Linked DNA regions of Homo sapiens. The protein of the gene in region 1 interacts with the protein of each later gene in a pairwise test. Each region holds a gene or a part of one and is shown in the gene's direction. Other genes may lie near its edges.

Region 1 (6,863 bases):
GAAGGATGCGCTTTATATAGCACAATGTATGAATATTAGTGATATATGTATAAAATCAAAATTAAGTTCAGTACTTAAAGAAATCATATCTTCTATATAAGAAATGATTTCAAGCACTCCAAGAGACCACACTATAAAAGCTTCTAGGCAGAAGGTACTATATTTCCTTTTCTCCCAGTGCCCCTAGCACCTTATCTTATACAGTGAAGTACTTATCTAATGGCCACTTTTTTTTTTTTTTTTTTTTTTTTGAGACAGAGTCTCACTCTGTCACCCAAGCTGGAGTGCAGTGGTGCAATCTCAGCTCAGTGCAACCTCCGCCTCCCAGGTTCAGGTGATTCTCCTGCCTCAGCCTGCCAAGTAGCTGGGATTACAGGTGTGCACCATCATGCCCAGCTAATTTTTGTATTTTTAGTAGAGATGAGGTCTTGCCACATTGGCCAGGATGGCCTCGAACTCTTGGCCTCAAGTGATCTGCCCTTGTCGGCCTCCCAAAGTGCTGGGATTACAGGCATGAGCCACCGCACCCAGCATAATGGCCACTTATTTCTTAGCAAATCTCAACTATCTGCTAATAAATTTGGCAGATTTCTGTGTATCTGAGACACAGTCCAATACACAGAAATTATAAACACCCTCCACTAAAATCTGGGCACTTTTCATGAGAGACTCTTCTCAGATGAAGTTACTCTTACTTTAGATCAACAGTTCTCAACCACATCAGATTCAATGTGCCCCTTGCATAAAATATTTTCCAACTTCTGCTTTACCACCCTGAAACAAAATAACAATATTCCTACAATTTCAAACAAATCCATATACCCTAAATAAGAGTGGAAAAGAGACATGAAAATGATTTATAATAACATATATTTCGACGTGGGGCAAAACTACACTAGAAGACTTAAAGAAGTAACTAGTAGCTGAATATATCTATGAATGCAGAGCTGTTTGTGATACAATTTTCCAAAACTGTAAACAATTCTTGGTCAAGTTGTGAACAAAACAATCTTCCTTCAATTCACATAACCGTTGCATGTGGAAACAGACTCAGTTAAAATTCAGTCTCAGTTAAAATCATGATGCAAGATGGAGGTTCCAGGCTTTGATAATTACAAATACTACATGAAAGTCAGGCAGATATTCTTAAATCATGCAAGACATGGGGACACTTTGTTCAGGACTGTCCCACACCTCTCTAGCCTTCACTCAACAAATGCAAGTTGTTAGCTCCAATCATTACAACAATCTAAAAAATGCCTTCCAGTTTCCCCTTGGAGGGCAACACCAAGCTGGACCCACCGCCTTAAACACAGTTCCGCTATCTATCCCAGTATAATGTAAACAAGCTTGGGAAGCATGAATTAGATCTCCAGTTCTGTTACCAATGACCTATGTGATCACCCGCCAGTTGAGTTAACTTCTCTAAACCTCACTTTCCATGGTACCAAAAGGGAATAAACGCTATATGGCTTTTTAAGTTGTCAGAATGACTCAATGACACGTGTATAGCACATAGTAGGTGGTTTCCAACCCATGGCCTATTGAGATGTGAAAAAAGGCACTGTTCCAGGTAAATAGAAAGAAAGCAGCAAAAAGTAATCTAAATGTGGAAGAGGCAGAAGATATAATAAGCATACAAAATGAAACTTAACGCACAGCAGTCTAGGGACATTTCAGAGAGCAGCCAGCCATCCTACCTAGGTTGCCTTCAGCAACCCCTGAAGGCATTAATGTACTAGGATTAGCTGAAATAATTAATATTCACAATGATGACCTCCAAAGTAAAAAGGCAAGAAAGACATTTTTAAGAGACTTCCAATGTACGTGGCTGAAATTTTTTAAATCTGATGCCTAAAGAGTGACTGTATTTCACAAACATTATTCAAATTTTTATTGGACGTTTACCCTATCTGAGGCTAGATAGTTGGAAAACACAAAGAAATCTAATACACCATGTCTGTTCTCAAACATTTTACCATTCAGTACATTAGACATGGTAGAGGCAGAATGACACAGATAAGAAATAGAAATTCAAGTAATAAATTATGAGAGCACAGACAAAATTAGGAATAATTGTCCCTGAGGAAAACCAAGGATGTCTTCATGGCACAGGCCACTGAAAAATGAGAGTTCTGATAGGTACAGAATGGGGAGCAAAGTGTTAAGGGAAAAACGAAATCTGGGCAAAAGCACTGAGCATGAAAATACAGGTTGGCTGAAAGAAGAGAGGTAGGGAACGGGTACATTAGGAGTTGGGGGTGAAAGTAGTAAAAGTAAAGGCTGTAAAGCTATTTCAGGACCTTTCATGAAGGGATCTGAATGATATTCAAATTCATTTGAGTTTTATTGAACAAGAGAGTTCGCCAAAAAACTGGTGCTTATGCAGCACACCTGATCCTCAAATAATGCTGAATAATGGCCAAAAATAAAAGATTCAGAGTTAAATGCAAATTATTACTCAAATTCCTGAAATAAAAAGTCTTGACATGAATTAATAAGCGAAAAGAACCTAACCCAAGAGTAGAAAGTAGCTTCTGAGCTTGTTTCTTAAATAATGAAATATTACCCAATTTATTGACTGAGAACTGAAAATAATTTAGGATAATCTGTTGTGTCCTTTGATTGTCTTCCATGCAAGTCAGAGTATTTCCTAAACATATTATTTAGCAGTGCCTCATATCACCCTTGAAAGGCAAGAGACAGACTACAGTATTATTACCCCCTTTTTATCACAGGGAAACTGAGGAACAAGAAGACAAAATTACAGTATGGTCACAAAAGCCATCATATTTTCTAGGACTTTAATTAAAGGCTCCAAGCCTACATTTCATCTTTTATTCTTCGCACCATCTGAATACTAGAATTATCTTTTACTATCGTCTTAACTGGAAAAAATAAAAATATCTAAACTTTAACATCATTTTCTCAATTTGGTACTGTCACAAAAAAAAAAAAAAAACAGTTTTAAAAGTCTGCCCTTGAAATGATATTTGCAAGAACAGCAAGGTGTAAGCAGTAACCCAACCTCCAAAAAATACAGTTGTAAATCTTACAGCTGTAATATAGTTGTAAATCTTAAGACAGGTCAGGAATCCTAGACCCAGCCTTTACTTTGAACATCTGGCAGGCCTCAGGGAAATAATGGAGATTCGTGTCTGTAAACAGTCTTTGCAGATGCTCTGATGAAAAGGTGCCCTAAGAGGCCCAGAACAGTGGTATCACTGCACCCACTACTGCAAACATGAAATCCTCCTCTGTCCCTCCCTGCATTGCACCACGAGACTCGTGGCACACACGGAGGCCTGTGCAAGAACCTCTCGACGATTCCTTTAAAATGTGGTAATATAAGGACGCCTTTGGTGCTGGGCCTCCGTAAACACTGAGGATACCGGATGTGGCCAGGCACACCTCAAAGTCTTGGCTCTCCAAAACCAGGGCCTGGTCGAGAGTTTTATTGGACACCGAGTTCCTGCGAATATCTCACTTTTCACACAGGCACTGCCAATCCCTACCCTCCAGTACCCTTCCTCAGCCTCCTGCCCCACTCTCGCCGCGAGTGTGGGCGTCCCAAAGAGCTAAGGAGGGTAAGGTTGGTTAGAGCGCAGGGGCCAAGGCCGCGGCAGCGAGGCCGTCCAGCGCGGGCTAGGATCCCGCCAGCCCAGCCCTGGAGCCCGGCCGCCTGGCCCCAGCCCTGGCCCGGGCCAACGCGCCGCCGCCACCGCCTATCAGCGGAGCGCAGGGGCGGGGTGCTGTCCGGACTAGGCTGCCGGGCCGGCGGGCGGGGGCGGGCGGGGACGGGCGGGGGACCGACCTCTGCGCAGCCCAGGCCGCCGCGCGCACACACCGGGCCCGGCTCCTGAGGGCGCCAGCGCGGCCCCGGGGAGCGCGAGGAGCCGGCGAAGCGCGCGGCCTGCCGTTGGCGGCCTGGTCCGCAGCGCCCTGCGCCCACCCGCCCCGGACGTGGGGCCCAAGCCCCCGTGAAGATGGTGTCCTGGATGATCTCCAGAGCCGTGGTGTAAGTGCCTCTCACTGCGCCCTGCAGCCGGCGCGAGGCCCAGGGGAGCTGTGGGAAGGGGAAGGAGCCGAGAGGAAAGGGAAGGCCTGGGCCTGGGCGGGGACGGGGTAGCCCGGCCTCGGGCCTGCCGAGGGTCTGGGGGAGCCCTCGGCTTCCTCACCTTGGTCCACGTCGCTGCGGAGCTCCCTGCGACGGCCGAGGGCCTAGCTGCGGCGACTGCGGCTGCGACGGCGGCGGCGGCTGTGGCGCTGCTCGGCTGCGTGCGGTGCGGCGCGGCGCCCCTGCTCCGGCGGCGCTGGGTGGGCAGGCGCTCAGGGCAGGCGGCGCGCGCTCCCCGCTCCTGCTCCCCGCGCAGCGCGGCACCGCCCTGCGGGCCCGGGAGCGGCGCGCCTCGCAGCTGCTCCCTGCGCAGGCTCCGCAGACGCCGAGCGCGGGAGGCTCCGCGATCCTCCCGAGGATGCGACGGCAGTGCCGAGCCTTTGTATCCCGCGGCTGATGCGTTGCGGTGTCTCTCTTGGCGGCTGATTGCCATTCGGTCACGTGTGGTAGGAGGAGAGATTTGTCTAAAAACCGGAGACCGCTCCCAGCCCAGGATCCCTGGGAAGGGTCCTAGTTTTCCCAAGATTTGCAGCTTACCGAGAAAGGTGACACCGGCTGCTCGCCCAGATCCCCGAATTCGGCCCTGTCTCGGCGGAAATATTTGCTAAGTGATTGAAAGGCTGCAGGTGCCTGTTGCCTTTGTTCAAATTATGGGTTCATTTCATTGTTCTCCTACCAACAAGTGCTACAGGTCTGTAAGAAAAAGAAATTCCTTGAGTTGGTGGTGTTAATCGTGTAAATGTATTTGAATACAGTTTAAACTGATTTTCTCTCATCTCCATTTTACCCCTCTCCCCGATTAAAAAAAAAGTCACCAAGTAAACAATGACGTAGTTACAGCTAGGGCCTATGAATTCATTATTCACCTCTGTAGTAGTGTTATCTCAGAAGGTTTCATAAAGGTATATGAAAAAATGTTTATGTGAGGGGGCAGGCTTCTCTGATAAGCTTTAGAATTTAGGAAAAATAACATTACCAGACTTTTTGTTAAAAGGAGCTAGATTTTCTGAGTTTGGGGTTTATTTTGTTTGGAAGTGAATTACTAGCCCTATTTAATCAGATTTGCAGCACAGCATTCAAAATTTTTCATTTGATTAAATCGCAAAGTTTCTAGTTTTAAAGCCTCAGAGCTTCCTGTGTTCCCCTGTACGAAACTAAAAATCAAGATATAAACAAAAGGATACCACAGATGCCTTCAGATTGTTTTTCAGCCTTTTCCTGGCCTCTCTTTTGAGTCTGTCATTTATCTAATTCAGGCATACCTTTCTTGACCTAGTAGATGTCTATCAACTGTTGTGTCCACACCTAGAAAATCAAGTGCCCTATTAAGAAGCTGTACTTTACAAAAAAAAAAAAAAAAGCCTCTGGATTTCTTTGACCAGTTCTTCAGCTGACAGAAAATTGTGAAGCACTTTTAGACTTTTGTTTTTCATAATTGCCAATGAATATGAATGTCTGTTCTAGGTGCTACCTATAACACAAAGGTCAGTAACACGTAGTTGATCATGGGAATTGACAGTTTGGGTGCACAGATATCTGCAGTACAGGTCCAAATGTCAACTCTTGTAAAAGTTACACCCACTCTAATACCCAGTGTTGGACAAGGAAGGGATATCTGGTTGGAGAATCAGAAAAGGCAAGGGAGATTACGTTTCAGATGGGCCTTAAAGAATAGGCCCAGTAGAGTGGCTCACACCTGTAATCCTAGCACTTTGGGAGGCCAAGGAGGGAAGATTGTTTGATCACAAGAGTTAGAGACCAGCCTGGGCAACATAGCGAGACCTTGTCTCCACAAAAAAAGAAAAATTTAATTAGCTAGTCACAGTAGCTCACACCTGTAATCCCAGCTACTCAGGGACTGAGGTAGGAGGATCGCTCAAATTCAGGAGGTCAAGGCTGCAGTGAGCCGTGATCGTGCCACTGCACTCCAGCCTGGGCCACAGAGTGAGACTGTGCCTCAGAAAAAAAACAAAAAAGAATGGACAGAATCTAGGCAGCCAAAGATGAAAAAGGAAAGGATTCCAGATATAGGGACCGGCGTGAGCCAAAGCCCAGAGGAGGAAAAGCCCAGATTAGTTACAGTGGGCGTGAGGGACTCGGGTGGGGAAAAAGCAAGCTGGAAAGGTAGCCTGGGGCCTGTTTTCAAGAAAGAAGGGGTAAATGTTATAAGGCAGCAACAGCTTTGCTTTGGAAGATTCTCTGCCCTTCTGTGAAATGATTGGCAATGGAGACCTGGAAGACAAGGAGACTCCTTAGGAGGCTCCCTAACTGGAGAGAGGGGATTAAAGCCTCTCTCCAGTTAAAGTACTTGAGCTACAGAATGTAAGGTTTGAGGCTAACGACAGGGAGCAATAATGTGAGGAAGAAAATGTCATGAAAAGAAATGTATTTCTCAAGTGTCAGGAACTGTTATTTTGTGAGCCGTGAACACATTAGCACATTAGAAAGCACACTTGTAGAGAATATAAACATCATTCTATTTTTCCTCTTTACTCAGTTTCTCTCTCTAAACATGAAAGAGCAATCACAGGATCTACACAAACTTGGAAACCTTTTTCACACCAGGAGGTAGAATTTACTTGATTCTTTCTAACCCACTGAGACAACCACCTCCTCCTGAGCAAGATCAGACCCTTCTCTCAACATGAACCTCTGGTAGCATGGGCAGGGAACCTCCATAACCAAAGCACCCTGTATGTAGAAGCACTTTGTCCCAAGATCCTGCACTTTAACACCAGAGAAATTA
Region 2 (7,028 bases), on another chromosome or scaffold:
CGGGTGTGGTGGCGCATGCCTGTAATCCTAGCTACTCAGGAAGGCTGAGGCAGGAGACTCGCTTGAACCTGGGAGGCGGAGGTCGTGGTGAGCCCAGATCACGCCACTGCACTCCAGCCTGGGCAACAAGAGTGAAACTTCGTCTCAAAAAAAAAAAAAAAAAAAAAGATTTATTTCAATGAGCTAGCTAAAAATTAGCTCCATTGCCACGTGTTGTTCAGTTTAGGACAAGAATCAACTGGCTCTTTTGTGCTTGGATCAAACAAGTGGATTAAATCCCACAATGAGTATTATGAAGAGTTTCCTACCTGTAAGAAAATTTTCCCTGATCTATATAATATCTGCTTCTGATTGAGTCAAAAAGAAGAAAGGCTTTTTAGATGTAAGAGATAGGTATCCTGCCACTGTTGCAGGATCCTGTGTCATGTATTTAGACCTTTATCTAAAGACGGATGTAAATATCCGGGGAATGTTCATAGGAAAGCCCTGAAAATTCTTGAGCCATATAATATGATCACAGAATATAAGATGCAGATTGCAAATGTAAATTATTAAGCCATGTAAAACAATAATAGAATGTAAGATGCAGTTGCAAATATCTCCGGAAGGCACCTTGCAGAAGAATCTATGTGTGGCCTCTCCTCACGATCTAGAATTTGGGCAAGAGAGATGAAGCCAGTGAAGAAGGCAGTGTGTCTTCATGATCCAGTTTTGAGGCAAGACTCAGATGGCACAGGTAGCACACACCTACTGTGTCACAGGCTCTTCACCCTCAGGGCACATTGGAATCTCCGGGCGTTACTTCTAAAAGATACTAATTCCTCAGCTGATTCTAATGGGCAGACAGCTGAGAAGCACTGTACAGTCTATTGTTTGGCTGGGAGTGTCTGACAGTTTCATGTGCTTTTTTTTTTTTTTTTTTTTTCATTTGAGAGAGTCTCACTCCTGCCACCCAGGCTGGAGTGCAGTAGTATGCTCATAGCTCACTGCAGCCTTGACCTCTTGGGCTCAAGCGATCCTCCCACCTCAGACTCCTCAGTATCTGGGACCACAGGTGTAAACCGTCATGTCTGGCTATTTTTTTATTTTTATTTTTTGTTGTGACAGACCATTTTATAATGACATAAAGTCTGTGAATATTAATCATGTAAGGGATAGCGCTCAGCGGTCTTCCTCTTAGAGCTGAGGACAGGTCAGTGAGGGCACTAGGCTACAGGAAGAGGCATTTCCTATAGATGACGGCTGTAAAATTTTAAGCTGAGTTCCTCCAGGAAGTCATAGAGTAATTAGTGGTTTTTTTCAACACACCAGAGTCCTAATTTGTGATCTCTAAGGGACAGCATAAATAAAGGCATGAGAGGCCAAGGAGGTGCATTGACACTCATTCTATGGCTCATTTGAAACTAGATATTTCCTTTTGTGCTAATCTTTATGGGTCCCAGCTGCCTTTTATGAGGGCTGAAAATAGCACCAGGGCTTTGGCCTCAGGAGCTCTGTAAATGGGGAGATGTTTCTGTCCCCTGAGAAACTGAAGATTCTTTGTACTGGGATGTCTTTTTCCCGTGTGGCTTCCCCTGGCTTTGAAGCAGTTCTGCAGGTTTTGAGTGGGGATGAGAGGTGACCCTATCCCTGGATTCCAGAAATGCACTTAACTCAAGAGGGATTTCCTCTGTCAAGATATCCCTAGGGCCTTTAAGTGCTCCCCTCGCACCTCTGACAGGCTAGGCCTCAGAGTCAGTGTAAAGTGCACTTGGGAAATCCAACATTTGTCCCCTCATCTAGATTTTCTCAAAGTCCATTCTTAAAATTTCTGGGAGGCCTCTACAACTAAACAGCCCACAATCGTTAAATGTATATTACTTGTAGAAGGCACAGGTGTGGAATATAAGAACAGGGCAGTTTAAGAGCACCCCTCCTCTATGTGGTTTCAGTTTACGCAGGAAGATAAGGCCAGGCTCTGTTTGTTTTTGAACCTGAAACCGGACAGGGCAGTCAGTGGCAACAGCAGATGGGCTATGTGGACAGCTCAGGTATTGGAAGATCTCACTAAGGGCAGGTGGGGAGGGAGGCTTCCACCAAAGGGGAGATTTGACCTAACTCCCGAAAGGTGGGAGGCCTCAGACCAGAGGTCTGCCATGGCCTCCTCCCACCTCCCTTACAATCTGGTCCACTAGGTGCAGGTGGGGCCTAGGTATGTGTCAGTTAAAATCCTTACCCAGTGATTCTGATGTGCAGCCAGGCTTGGGCACCTCTAATTGAGAAGGTTGGAAATACAGTCCAAGTGTGGACTGACCGATTCGTTTTCTGATGGCCAGCACCAAAATAAGAATGGCAGAGAAGGCCAGTCGCGGTGGCTCATGCCTGTAATCCCAGCACTTTGGGAGGTTGAGGCGGGAGGATCACGAGGTCAGGAGATCGAGACCATCCTGGCTAACACAGTGAAACCCCGTCTCTACTAAATATACAAAAAATTAGCCGGGCGTGGTGGCGGGCGCCTGTAGTCCCAGCTACTCGGGAGGCTGAGGCAGGAGAATGGCGTGAACCCGGGAGGCGGAGCTTGCAGTGAGCGGAGATCGTGCTGCTGCACTCCAGCCTGGGCGACAGAGCGAGACTCCATCTCAAGAAAAAAAGAAAAAAAAAAAAAAGAATGGGAGAGAAAGCAGGCCAGGTGGCCAGGTGTCGGTCAGGAGCGAGTCTCCTCGAGTGCCGGCTGCTGCTTTGTGGGATGGTGAACGCTGAGGAATGACTGAGGCGCAGTTGCACCCTTTGGCCGAACTCCCAATAATTGTTTAGCAGATGCTTTGTGTCCATTATCTCTAGTTTTTGCAACAGTCCTGTGAGCTAATTTACTATTTATATATTTTAAAGCTGAGGACTTTGGGGCCTATGAGTTTCAGTAGCTTGCTTAAAGCCACCTTGCCTTTAAGTGGTATATCTTGGTTTGGAATCCAAGTGTGTTAGATACAGACACATTTTTTCCCCATTGTATTCTGTTGTTTCCCATGGTCTCCATGAAAGAATTATCTAATGGTGGAGTGGGAAGTAGGAGAAGAGTCATGGGACCATATAGGGTAAGGTGGGGGCCCCTCTGTGACACCCTCATAAACCGGAGCTCTGCACAGTGATGTGGACAAAAGGGAAAGTTGGAGAGCTTTGTGGAGACACACAGCAGGGATTGGTTCTGGCTCATCTCTCTGAATTGCGTCTTTGAAATGGACTAGTGCACACCCTGAAGGGCTGTTAGGGTTAAGTGAAATGACGCTGGTGCTCAATAAACCATAGCAGTTGTACTTGTTTTCATTGACCCCTCCTCTGCCTCACTCCAGCCTTCTCACTCCAGCTTTGCAGCTTATTTCCTGTTGTCTCTTGCAGCTGTCCTTTCATTTCCCTTCCCAACCCTTTTTTACATAGAACCTAGGCCACAGCAGTAGCCTTGTAGCTTTTTCTTGGTGTTTCCACTCTAAACCACACATGATTTTCCCTTAATTTTCAACTCGGCTCTGGTGTTTCAAAACCTTCAAGTTTCCAGTGCACACCCAATTAAGTCCAATCTATTCTGGGACAGCTATCAACACCCTCTGAGTGTGCTCCCAGCCTTTCACTCTCTCTAATCTTAACTTTCATTATTTGCCTCTGAAACCCACATTCCAGTCGGCAGGCTAGTCTGCTGGCCGGTTCCATTACGAATCCACACTTTGGATGCTCTTTCCTGGGTTTGGAATGCCTTCAAAAATCCATCTTTCAAAATCCTGCCTATCCTCCCCACTTCAGAGCCCCCAGAGGATTTTCTTGCTAACTTCTTGATGAGGTTCTGTTCTGCCTCTGATCTCTCTTTTTGAAAACTTGATTCAGTAGAGTGTTGCCCTAAGGTCAGGGTCTTGCTGCCTTCATTTCTGTGTCTCTGGCACATCCTAGGTATTCAGAACTGTCTGTTGCAACACAATGACTGCCTCACAATCTCCCTCTGCCTTTCTAGGCTAACAAGGAAAGCCCCTGGAGCTCCTGTAATAAGAATGTGGTTGGAAGATGCAAACTGTGGATGATCATCACCTCCATTTTCCTAGGTGTCATTACAGTGATCATCATAGGCTTATGTCTTGCTGCAGGTAAGAGGATTTAGATGTGAATAAATAACACATTTTAAGAACTTACTTAAGGCTTGTGACTTACACTGAAATGGAAGATGTACTCATAGCCATTTCATTATTTATAATGTGAATTTAAGACCGGCTTGGAATATATTGTATGGGTGGGAGATATGCCTGATTCTTGTGTTTTTGTTTTCTGTTGTTGTTGTATTTTGTTGTTTTATAAGCTCCAGAAGAAATATAGAAACCAGTGTTTTACTTTAAACTCTGCTCATTGGATCTTGAAGAGGTTTCTTAATGTTTCAACTTACTTAAACACTGATTTATATTTTATTTATATCCTGATACCTGTTGATTTGAATTCTTTTTCTTTTCATTTGTTTGCTAAAAATAATTATACTTCATCTGGTGTGTCTGATATATTACTATGATGATAAAATAATAAATAATGTATTTGAAAGAGTTTTAAAAAACTTTGAAGAACCATGTGTCCATAAGCTGTCATTATTTTAACTTATTGTATTTATTTATTTTTTTTTTTGAGAGAAAGTCTTACTCTGTCACCCAGGCTAGAGTGCAGTGGCACGACTTTGGCTCGCTGCAACCTCTGCCTCCCAAGTTCAAGGAATTCTCATGCCTCAGCCTCCGAAATAGCTGGAATTATAGGCATGTGCCACCACGCCCAGCTAATTTTTGTATTTTTAGTAGAGACGGGGTTTTGCCATGTTGTCCGGGTTGGTCTTGAACTCCTGACCTCAAGTGATCTGCCTGCCTTGGCCTCCCAAATTGCTGGGATTAGAGGCATGAGCCACCATGCTTGGCCCAATTTTAACTTGTTTTAGAAATGACTGTTTATTTTATTAGTGTTGTATGTGTGTATAAAACAAAAAATGTATAGAATGCTAACTATATATGACTACATCTATTCCATATATTATTTCATGTTGTTGCTTATTTTGATTGAAAAATGATATATGTTCAGTTACCCATAAAACCCATCTGTAATATTAATATTTGGTCATATTTTCTTCTAGTCTTTTGTTTAGTTGCATTTCTAAAATAATTTGAGATTAGATTTCTTTATAGTCTTGTGGACTACCTTTAGGATTTTGATATTATGTTTAGATCATTTTGCCAAGTCATTAAAAATTATTTGTGAACATTATTATTTTTATGATTTGCATGATACAGTCTTCCACATCATTTAAAGTTCTTTAGGTAGTTACCAATTTTTTAATGATTATTAGTATTCGTTAAAGTTTTTACATCCTCCAGTGGACAATCATTTCAATTCAAAATGGGAAAGAAGAAAATTGTTTTTATTTATATGTGGGGGTGATGGTAGAGAGGGGCTCGACTGAGGCTGGGATACTCCCGAGCATGATCCAGCCTTCATGCGGCATGGGTTGAGTCCAGCTCCCAGTTACAAACCCAGTCATAGAATGAGAAGAAGAAGGGGTAACTCCCCAGTCTCTCCAGAGGGAGTTCTCAGGAATTTTCCTCAGAAACTACATTTTCCATTTACCGCTTGTTTCCCCTTCTCCCAACCCCTTAATTTCCTGTCTTAGAGTTTTGTAATTCCTGAAGGAATAGGAAAACTTTGATGACATCAGCCAACCTCCAGCACATAAGTTTCCTGGCCAGGCACCATATCTACGTATTTACTTAGGGCATTGTTCAGGTGTGTTGGATGACTGTTTGAGGATATAAGCTGGTGTTAAGGTAGGAAAAAGCTAATGAAGTGTGCTGCACCTCCTCCGTCATGCTGAGGACAATAGTTTTGGTGTGAGCATTGCCATACTTCCTATTCATATCAATTCCAACACATGGATGTTGAAAATGAGGTTGAGTAGCACAATCTTGTCCTGACATAACTAGTTGGTGCTATCCTAGAAGTTGATATTTGGATCCTGTTGGCATCTGGGGCCTATCATAAAGGATGATTCAAGAGATCTAGATGGTTTAATATTCAGGATTCTAAAGCGCAAGACCCAGGATCTGTCTTCCATTCTCAAAAAGTCATCTAACCTCTTCACCTCACAAAGAGCAGTCTGCAAGAGGAAGGTATTTCACTTCCTTCCACAGTTTTTCTGGAGATGTAAAAGGTTATGGGATAATATTCAGGGAAGAATTTTTTTAACACTTGTAGTGCAAACTTTATTTTTAATTTAACTGTAAATTTGTGTTCGAACATGTCAATGCTGTAAGAGAGATTTTTTCAAACTACTTTTTAAATCAAGGAAATACTTGTATTTTACTTGGCATCTCAGCTCTTAGGTATTTGATCCTGTGGGGAGAGTCATGTTAGACGTGGGGGTGGGGGGAGATACAGTAGGTTAAAAGGGGTGGGGCAGGGGCTCCCTTCTGTGACAGTCCCAGCCTCACCTAGAGCAGTTCCGTAGGCATTTTTTGGGGATGATCTTCAATAATCAGCCACTTCCTAATTGCCAAGCCCATTAATATGAATCAGATATTTGTGGAACTTTCAAGTACTGCATGGGAAATGTTGTCTGGGGATAAAAACACTGTTGGGAGAGTCAAGGGCTGTGCCTGTGGCTGTCTGGATTTACTGGGTGACTAAGGTTCCTCAGGAACTATATTTGCCATTCATTGCCTGCTTACCCTTCTCTAGACCCCTTAATCTCCTGTCTCAAGGCTCTGTAGTCTTCAGACTGAAGCTTGGAGGCGGAAGTGTTAACTTTTGTTCTTCAGTAGGCAGGTCTTTGCAAAACTACCCAGAAAGGCTGAGGAAGCTGAGAGGCTAAAGAAAAACTGACAAATCCAGTTACTCAGAAAGAAACATTTAACAGGGTTTTAGGAACAGAAGCCATGCGTTGGGCAGCAGTGAGAGGAGATGGTGCATTCCTGCACCATTACCCCAAAGGCCCAGGGCTTAAATACCACAGAAAAAGGGTATGCATGCTTCAGAAGGGATGTGTT

Evidence for each region. The genes of interacting proteins can lie anywhere in the genome.
Region 2: the proteins of REEP3 (region 1) and C3orf52 interact in binary tests that used the Homo sapiens proteins (3 or more experiments, as listed by UniProt).

The regions. Positions count from the first base shown.
Region 1 is NC_000010.11:63,517,560-63,524,422, forward strand, and holds the start of REEP3 (receptor expression-enhancing protein 3), read left to right. Parts: upstream 1-3,841; 5' UTR 3,842-3,986; coding exon 3,987-4,018; intron 4,019-4,178; exon of another isoform or gene 4,179-4,331; intron 4,332-6,863. UniProt on the Homo sapiens protein: Microtubule-binding protein required to ensure proper cell division and nuclear envelope reassembly by sequestering the endoplasmic reticulum away from chromosomes during mitosis.
Region 2 is NC_000003.12:112,089,384-112,096,411, forward strand, and holds part of C3orf52 (TPA-induced transmembrane protein), read left to right. Parts: intron 1-3,976; coding exon 3,977-4,106; intron 4,107-7,028. UniProt on the Homo sapiens protein: Has a role in LIPH-mediated synthesis of 2-acyl lysophosphatidic acid (LPA). LPA is a bioactive lipid mediator involved in different biological processes, and necessary to promote hair formation and growth.